2 separate regions of the Homo sapiens genome follow, and region 2 is linked to region 1. The links come from fine-mapping of genetic effects on gene expression. A gene starts in region 1. The other region holds a variant in brackets. All regions are shown on one strand. Distances are between the middles of the regions.

Region 1 (4,252 bases):
ACCACCCCAAGGGAGGGGGATTGTTTCAGGTTCGGGGAGACGCTAAAAGAAATTGAACCTAAACTCTTCATCAGGCATGTCCAGAGTGGCTTTGGCTCTCCATATAGAGCGAGGCCTGCAGACCCTTTGGCTCTTCTTTCTGGTGGCTCCATCTACAGGTTGCACCTGGGCTGAATAAGCAGCTGTCGGGGAGAGAAGCAGCGTATGTCAGAACTGAATAATAACAATTAACATTACCTGTACAGTTATGTTTGCCCATACAATTCTAACCACCTTGCATAAATTAACTGATTAATTCCTCAAATTTGTAAGGTTGATATTACTATCATCCCCCACTTAGAGAGGTTCAGTAGTTTGCAAAAGGTGTTAGTACTACTATGTGGTAGATCCAGGATTTGAACCTAGCTGATCTGGCCCCAGGAATTGCACTCAAACTGTTATGGGATATGGCTTCATTGCTAGTAGAGAAAGCCAAGACACAAAGACATGAGGCAGCTTTCCCCAACCCAGGAGCAGGACCAACATAGGACCATGCTCTTTCCCACTCCTCCCAGGGCCTCCCCGCTGCTTCCCAGGTTCAGTCCTAGGAAGAGGAAAGAGAGGTCCACGCTTTCTGTTTCCCTGCTCCCTCAGGCTTCCCTGAGCCCATCTCCTTCCCCCACCAGGCTTGTTGCTCTGGGCCTTCTTCCTTTCACCCCCTAGACACTTCCTCCTTAAGTTAGGCCTTCCTGAATCAACCAGTGGCTAGCTCCTCACCAGCTCTGAGAGCCCGCAGGGCCTCACGCCATTCGGCTTCCATCTGAGCCCTATAGTCTCCAAACAAGGAGTGCATCAGCTGCCTCTTCCGGGGCAAGGGCGTTCTTTTGCTGCGCAGGGTTCGGATTGCTCCAATAGCCTGCTCTTCTGCGAATAAAAATAAAGGACTAGTGAACACCTCTATTACTGACCTCCTACCACCCCGCCGCAAAGCCAACAACTCCATACTCTGCCAGCACCTGCAGGCCAGGCAGTGCCACTGTTCACATCCCCCAGCTCTACAGAAGGGTCCCTTACTCTGTTTCGGGGTGGGTTTCTGCCTCTTGAGGCCCAGCTCCAGTTGCTCCACACACCAAGCCAATTCCTGGGCCAACTGTTGTGCCTGTGATGGATTTGGGGAAGTGGCTGTGAGAGGGCACTGGAAAACCATAGCCGCCGGCCCCATCCCATGCCCCTCCCCGCCTTAACTCCGCGGACCCCAGATCACACGTGCCCGTGGATTCGCACCCGTGGATTCCACCCTTCCCGACCGAAGCCCGCCCTTGCCTGGGCCTCAGCGCTTAGGGGAACTTCTTCTGGGGCGAGTTTCTCTGAGGCCTTCTCGCCTCCATTTGCCACAGAGGCCCTGTTCCGCGTTTTCTTCTTATTCTTTTGTTTTTTCGACGCTGTGCCGCCTTCATCGCCCAACGGGTGCGCTCTGGAGTCAGCGTTACTGCACGTAGGTTGCTCTGGGCAGAGACAGACAGTGGAAGGATTCCGGGCGCTGGAAACTGGGCCGGGAAGCCGGGCTCCGCGGGACGCGCAGGGAGTACCCGGGCCTGGGGCCGCCGCTGCCTCCCCAGCAAGATGTCCCAGGGCCTGGAGAAAGGGGGGTAGCACGAGGGTCACCGAGAGCCGCCAACAATGCAAGGCCCAGCCACCCGCGCGTCTTCTCCACACCGCTCACCGCCATGCGCCGCAGTCGCCACCGGAACTACGCGGGGCGCAGAGTCCGACGCCGAATTCCGTCCTTCAAGAACGCGCCTGCGACTCTAGGTTCCGCGGGGCGCGGGCGGGGCGCGGGCGGGGCGCGGGCGGGGCGCGGGCGGGGCGCGGGCGGGGCGCGGGCGGGGCGCGGGCGGGGCGCGGGCGGGGCGCGGGCGGGGCGCGGGCGGGGCGGGGCGCGGGCGGGGCGCGGGCGGGGCGGGGAGCGGGCGGGGCGGGGCGCGGCTGGGGTGGGATGAAGCTGGGACGGGGCGAAGCTGGGACGCGCCTGGGACGAAGCTGAGATGGGGCTGGGGCGGGGCCTGGGGGTTCGGGGAAGAGGCTGAAGAGGGGTCTCGGAAGAACCCTTGTGAGCGAGTGATCGCGGGCGCTGACTACGTGCCCGGCACCTTTCCGGATAAAAGTTCAAAGCTCTCCACGAGGGTGTGTCTTCTCAAGGCTCACCTTTTGGTGGGGAGGGAAAAGCAAGTAAACAGCACGTGAGCAGCTACGGCGCAAGAGGGTGGTCGGCAAAGACCCTGGGAAATGGGGAAGAGCGAGGGTCAGGGCGCGGTCGTTTGAGAGGCCGGCGTCTCGGGACGTGGAGGCTCGGGTGAGGTCTGAGAGTTGGGAGGGCCCCCGTCATGGGCTTACTTCCGTTCTAACGCAGTGGGAAGTCGCTGCAAGATGTAAATCTGAAGAGTGGCATAATCGTAGACGTATGTTCTGCAGATCTCTCTGCTCTTGTGTAACGAGTGGGGCACATGGGGTGGAGGGACGTGGAGGGGTTTCAGAAGCAGACGCGGGAAGAGCCTTGGACAGGATATGGACGTGAGGGAGGGTGGCGGTATGGGGGAGAGGGAGAGCCCCATCCCACCACCTCTCTTCCCCTGGATGCTTCCCTCCCACTATACCTTGCTAGAGACCTGGGGTCACACACAACACTCGACCCCCGCCGATGGAGGCATGACAACCGAGAGGAATTGCGTAGGGGTTGAGGTGAGGCTGAGTAGGGTTTCAGGGGGGCAACGGGCTATGCCAGGAGGGTGGGTTGTGTTGCTTGAGAAGGTAAGAGTCCGAGATGTCTGATGATTCCTTTCGGGGACACAGGAGTGGAAAGCGGTGTTTCCTGAGACGGTGGGGTGGGAAGTGTTAGCTGCCTGGTCTGCAAGGTCTCGAAGGGTTACAGTTTGGTCATCACTGATAGTTATTTACTGCAGTGTGATACATTACTCCCAAAATTCGGCGGATTGGCCGGGCGCGGTGACTCACGCCTGTAATCCCAACACTTTGGGAGGCCGATGCGGGCGGATCACGAGGTTAGGAGTTTGAGACCATCCTGGCTAACATAGTGAAACCCCGTCTCTACTAAAAAATACCAAAAAATTAGCCGGGCATAGTGGCGGGCACTTGTAGTCCCAGCTACTCGGGAGGCTGAGGCAGGAGAATGGCATGAACCCGGGAGGTGGAGCTTGCAGTGAGCCAAGATCGCACCGCTGCACTACAGCCTGGGTGACAGAGCGAGACTCCATCTAAAAAAAAAAAAAAAAAAAAAACACGCAGAATTTAAACGGGACACGCAGTAAAGGAGATGCGGCATACAGTAATTTATTACAAAGGAGAAAGAATATTTGGAAAGTTAAGTGAACAATAGACAGTACACCCTGAGAGAGAGAGAGAGGATTGAGGGCCAGCTGCTCATAAGGTTGGGGCAGCAAAGACGCATGAGGGAGACTCCCTTTATGGGGGTCTTACATGATTATTCATAAGGAATTGGGAAGAGGTGCTACTAGTGAGTATGTTCTGGATGGTCCTCTGAGTGCACATGTGCGGTAGCTGTATGTTCTTACATGCTTGTTCATACAATGCTTCTTGTCATACAATGCTTGTTCTACATGCTGGTATATGATTGTTCGTACATGTCACATGTCTTATTAGCATCTTAAACCTCCAACCAGGGCTCTGTTTTTTACTATTATAATGAGCGAAAGGTCAGTCTGAGGACAGGTAAAATCAAAATGTACATGCTCTTTGCAGGGGAAATTCTCTACTGAAGATAGTTTTGCTTGAAAGAGCTTAACCACAATGTGAAGGCAGAGGCTTATTGTGCTGATTGCACAGTCACAACAGTTGCTGCATCCCGAGGACATGGTTACTTCCTTGACTACCTATCCTGCCTCACTTTCAATGCTCTGATTTTATCCATTACCTTCCTGACTCATATGCTATTTTTGTCTTGACTTCATTTCTATCTTTGTTTTTAAATCTGCCATATTAGACTTAATTCTATTTACAGTCAGTGTTTTCAAATATACAACTTTTGTTTTTCTTAGAGTCCATGTCTCACTCTGTCACCTAGGTTGTCCTGGGCTCAACTGATCCTCCCTCCTGCCTCAGCCTCCCAAGTAGCTGGGACCACAGGCATGCACCATCATACCAGCTAATTTTGTAATTTTTTGTAGAGATGGGGTCTCACCAGGATGCCCAGGCTGGTCTTGAACTCCTGGGCTCAAGCAATCTTCCCACCTCAGCC
Region 2 (4,252 bases), 63 kb after region 1:
GGTCCTGGGTTTCAAGCACAAAACTGGGCGGCTGTTTAGGCAGGCATCGAGCTAGGTGCAGGAGTTTTTTTCATACCCTGGTGGCACCTGGAATCCCAGTGAGACAGAACTATTCACTCCCCTGGAAAGGGGGCTGAAGCCAGGGAGCCAAGTGGTCTCAATCAGCGAGTCCCACTCCCATGGATCCCAGCAAGCTAAGAACCACTGGCTTGAAATTCTCACTGCCAGCACAGTAGTCTGGAGTCAACCTGGGATGTTCGAGCTTGGAGGGGGAAGGAGCATCTTCTGACATTACTGAGGCTTTAGTAGGCGGTTTTCCCCTGACGGTGCTAAGGAGACCAGGAGGTTTGGACTGGGCGGAACACCACAGTGCGGCAAAGCAGCTATGGCCAAACTGCTTCTCTCGATTTCTCCTCACTGGGCAGGGCATCTCTAAAGGAAATGCAGCAGCCCCAGTCAGGAGCTTACAGATAAAACTCTCACCTCCCTGGGACAGAGCCCCTGGAGGGAGGGGCAGCTGTGGGCGCAGCTTCAGCAGACTTAATCTTTCCTGCCTGGCTGTGAAGAGAGGAGCTGATCCTGACAAAGGGGATTCTCCTAGCACAGCACACCAGTTCTGCTGAGGGACAGACTGCCTCCCCAGGTGGGTCCCTGAACCCCATGCCTCCTGACTGGGAGACACCTCTTAACGGCTCAAGAGACACCTCACACAGGAGAGCTCCAGATGGCATCAGGTCAGTGCCACTCTGGGATAAAGCTTCTAGAGGAAGGAGCAGGTGGCAATCTTTGCTGTTCTGCAGCCTCCACTGGTGATAACCAAGTCAACAGGGTCTGGAGTGGACCTCCATCAAACGGCAGCAGACTGGCAGAAGAGGCGTCTGACTGTTAGAAGAAAAACTAACAAACACAAAGCAACAATAACAACATCAACATAAAAGACCCCACACACACACACAAACTCCATCCAAAGGTCATCAGCCTCAAAGATCAAAGGTAAATAAATCCACGAAGATGAGGAAAAAACAGTGCAAAAACACTGAAAATTCCAAAAACCGGAATGTCTCTTCTCTTCCAAATGATCACAACTCTTCTCCAGCAAGGGCACCAAACTGGATGGAGAATGAGACTGATGAATTGACAGAAGTAGGCTTCAGAAGGTGGGTAATAACAAACTCCTCTGAGCTAAAAAAAAAACCATGTTGTAACCCAATGCAAGGAAGCTAAGAAACTTGGTAAAAGGTTACAGGAACTGCTAACTAGAATAACCAGTTTAGAGAGGAACATAAATGACCTGATGGAGCTGAAAAGCACAGCACAAGAACTTCCTGAAGCATATACAAGTATCAATAGCCGAACTGATCAAGTGGAAGAAGGATAGTAGAGATTGAAGATCACCTTGCTGAAATAAGGCATGAAAACAAGATTACAGAGAAAAGAATTAAAAGGAACAAACAAAGCCTCCAAGAAATATGGGTCTATGTGAAAAGACCAAACCTACGATTGATTGGTGTATCTGAAAGCAATGGGGAAAATGGAACCAAGTTGGAAAACACACTTCAGGATATTATCCAGGAGAGCTTCCCCAACCTAGCAAGATATGCCAACATTCAAATTCAGGAAATACACAGAACACCACTAAGATACTCCACAAGAAGATCAAACCCAAGATACATAATCATCAGACTCTCCAATATTGAAATGAAGGAAAAAATGCTAAGGGCAGCCAGAGAGAAAGATCAGGTCACCTACAAAGGTAAACCCATTAGACTAACAGGTGATCTCTCTGCAGAAACCCTATAAGCCAGACGAGAATGGGGGCCAATATTCAACATTCTTAAAAGAACTGGGCTGGGC[G/A]CAGTGGCTCACACCTGTAATCCCAGCACTTTGGGAGGCTGAGGTGAGCGGATTACCTGAGGTCAGGAGTTCGAGACCAGCCTGACCAGCATGGAGAAACCCTGTCTCTACTTAAAAATACAAAAATACAAAAATTAGCCACATGGTGGCACATGCCTGGGAGGCACAGGTTGCAGTGAGCTGAGATTGCACCATTGCACTCCAGGCTGGGCAATAAGAGCAAAATTCCATCTCAAAAAAAAAAAAAAAAAAAAAAGAAGAATTTTCAACCCAAAATTTCATATCCAGCCAAACTAAGTTTCACAAGCAAAAGAGAAATAAAACCCTTTCCAGACAAGCAAATGATGAGGGATTTTGTCACCAGCAGGCCTGCCTTACAAGAGCTCCTGAAGGAAGCACTAAATATGGAAAGGAAAAACTGGTACCAGCCGCTGCAAAAACACACCAAAATATAGAGACCAATGACACTGTGAAGAAACTGCATCAACTAATGTGCAAAATAACCAGCTAGCATCATGATGCCGGGATCAAATTCACACATAAAAATATTAATCTTAAACATAAATGGGCTAAATGCCCCAATTAAAAGATGCAGACTGGCCAATTGGATAAAGAGTCAAGACCCATCCATGTGCTGTATTCAGGAGATCCATCTCACATGCAAAGACACACATAGGCTCAAAATAAAGGAATGGAGGAATATTTACCAAGCAAATGGAAAGCAAAAACAAAAACAAAAACAAAAAAAGCAGGGGTTGCAGTACTATTCTGATAAAACAGACTTTAAGCCAATGAAGATCAAAAAAGACAAAGAAGGGCATTACATAATAGTAAAAGGATCAATGCAACAAGAGGAGCTAACTATCCTAAATATATATGCACCCAATACAAGAGCACCCAGATTCATAAAGCAAGTTCTTAGAGACCTACAAAGAGATTTAGACTTCCACACAATAATAGTGTGAGACTTTAACACCCCACAGTCAATATTAGATTAACAAGACAGAAAATTAGCATCCTTTATTTATTTATTTTTTTAATTTATTATTATTTTTTTGAGACAGAGTCTCACTCTGTCAACCTGGCTGGAGTGCAGTGGTGCAATCTCGGCTCACTGCAAGCTCTGCCTTCTGGGTTCATGCCATTCTCCTGCCTCAGCCTCCTGAGAAGCTGGGACTACAGGTGCATGCCACCATGCCCAGCTAATTTATTTGTATTTTTAGTAGAGAAGGGGTTTCACCGTGTTAGCCAGGATGGTGTTGATCTCCTGACCTCATGATCTGCCCACCTTGGCCTCCCAAAGTGCTAGGATTACAGGTGTGATCCACCACACCCAGCCAGCATCCTTTAAAATTAAAGATATTCAGGACTTGAATTCTTCTCATTCTTGTCAGTGCCACATGGCACTTATTCTAAAATCAACCACATAATTGGAAGTAAGACACTCCTCTGCAAATGCAAAAGAACAGAATTCATAACGGTCTCTCAGACCACAGTGCAATCAAATTAGAACTCAGGATTAAGAAACTCACTCAAAACCACACAACTACATGGAAATTGAACAGCCTACTCCTGAATGACTCTTGGGTAAATAATGAAATTAAGAATGAAATAAGTTCGTTGAAGCCAATGAGAATGAAGAGACAATGTACCAGACTTTCTGGGACACAGCTAAATCTGTGTTAAGAGGGAAATTTATAGCACTAAATGCCCACATCAGAAAGCTGGAAAGATCTGAAATCGGCACCCTAACATCACAATTAACTAGAGAAGCAAGGGCAAACAAATTCAAAAGCTAGCAGAAGACAAGAAATAACTAAGATCAGAGAAAAACCGAAGGAGATACAGAAAGGAAAAACCCTTCAAAAATCAATGAATCCAGGAGGTGGTTTTTTGAAAAAATTAACAAAATAGATAGACCGCTAGCTAGACTAATCAAGAAAAGAGAGAAGCATCAAATAGACACAATAAATAATGATAAAGGGGATATTACCACTGATCCCCCAGAAATACAAACTATGATTGGAGAATACTATAAACACCTCTACTCAAATTAGAAAATCTAGAAGAAATGGATAAATTTAGTTTAGTCTTCTAGAAGACTAAACCAGGAAGATGTCAAACCCCTGAATAGACCAATAACAAGTTCTGAAATTGAGGCAGTAATTCATAGCCTACCAACCAAAAAAAAGCCCAGGGCCAGATGGATTTACAGCCAAATTCTACCAGAGGTATAAAAAGGAGTTGGTACCATTCCTTCTGAAACTATTCCAAACAATAGAAAAAGAGGGACTCCTCCCTAACTCATTTTATGAGGCCAGCATCATCCTGATACAAAACCTGACAGAGACACATCAAAAAAAAAAGAAAATTTCAGGTCAATATCCCTGATGAACAT

What was found. PIP is the estimated chance that this variant, and not a neighbour inherited with it, causes the effect. A credible set is the group of variants that fine-mapping cannot tell apart.
Region 2: its variant is the best candidate, but not a certain one, in a credible set for the expression of C8orf33 in whole blood (TOPMed, PIP 0.69).

Annotation. Positions count from the first base shown.
Region 1 is chr8:145,049,948-145,054,199 of GRCh38, reverse strand. C8orf33 (chromosome 8 open reading frame 33) reads right to left here and starts at 1,733. Exons shown (of 5, transcript NM_023080.3): 1 at 1,703-1,733; 2 at 1,303-1,614; 3 at 1,054-1,138; 4 at 757-903; 5 at 1-182. The coding sequence starts at 1,708. The coding sequence ends at 43. RefSeq lists enhancers at 359-1,159, 2,088-2,137, 2,178-2,307 and a silencer at 1,808-1,877.
Region 2 is chr8:144,986,681-144,990,932 of GRCh38, reverse strand. It overlaps the pseudogene ZNF252P. Among named protein-coding and RNA genes, the nearest start is that of ZNF252P-AS1, 14 kb to the left of the region's middle. The variant G/A (reference allele first, on the strand shown) is at 1,855.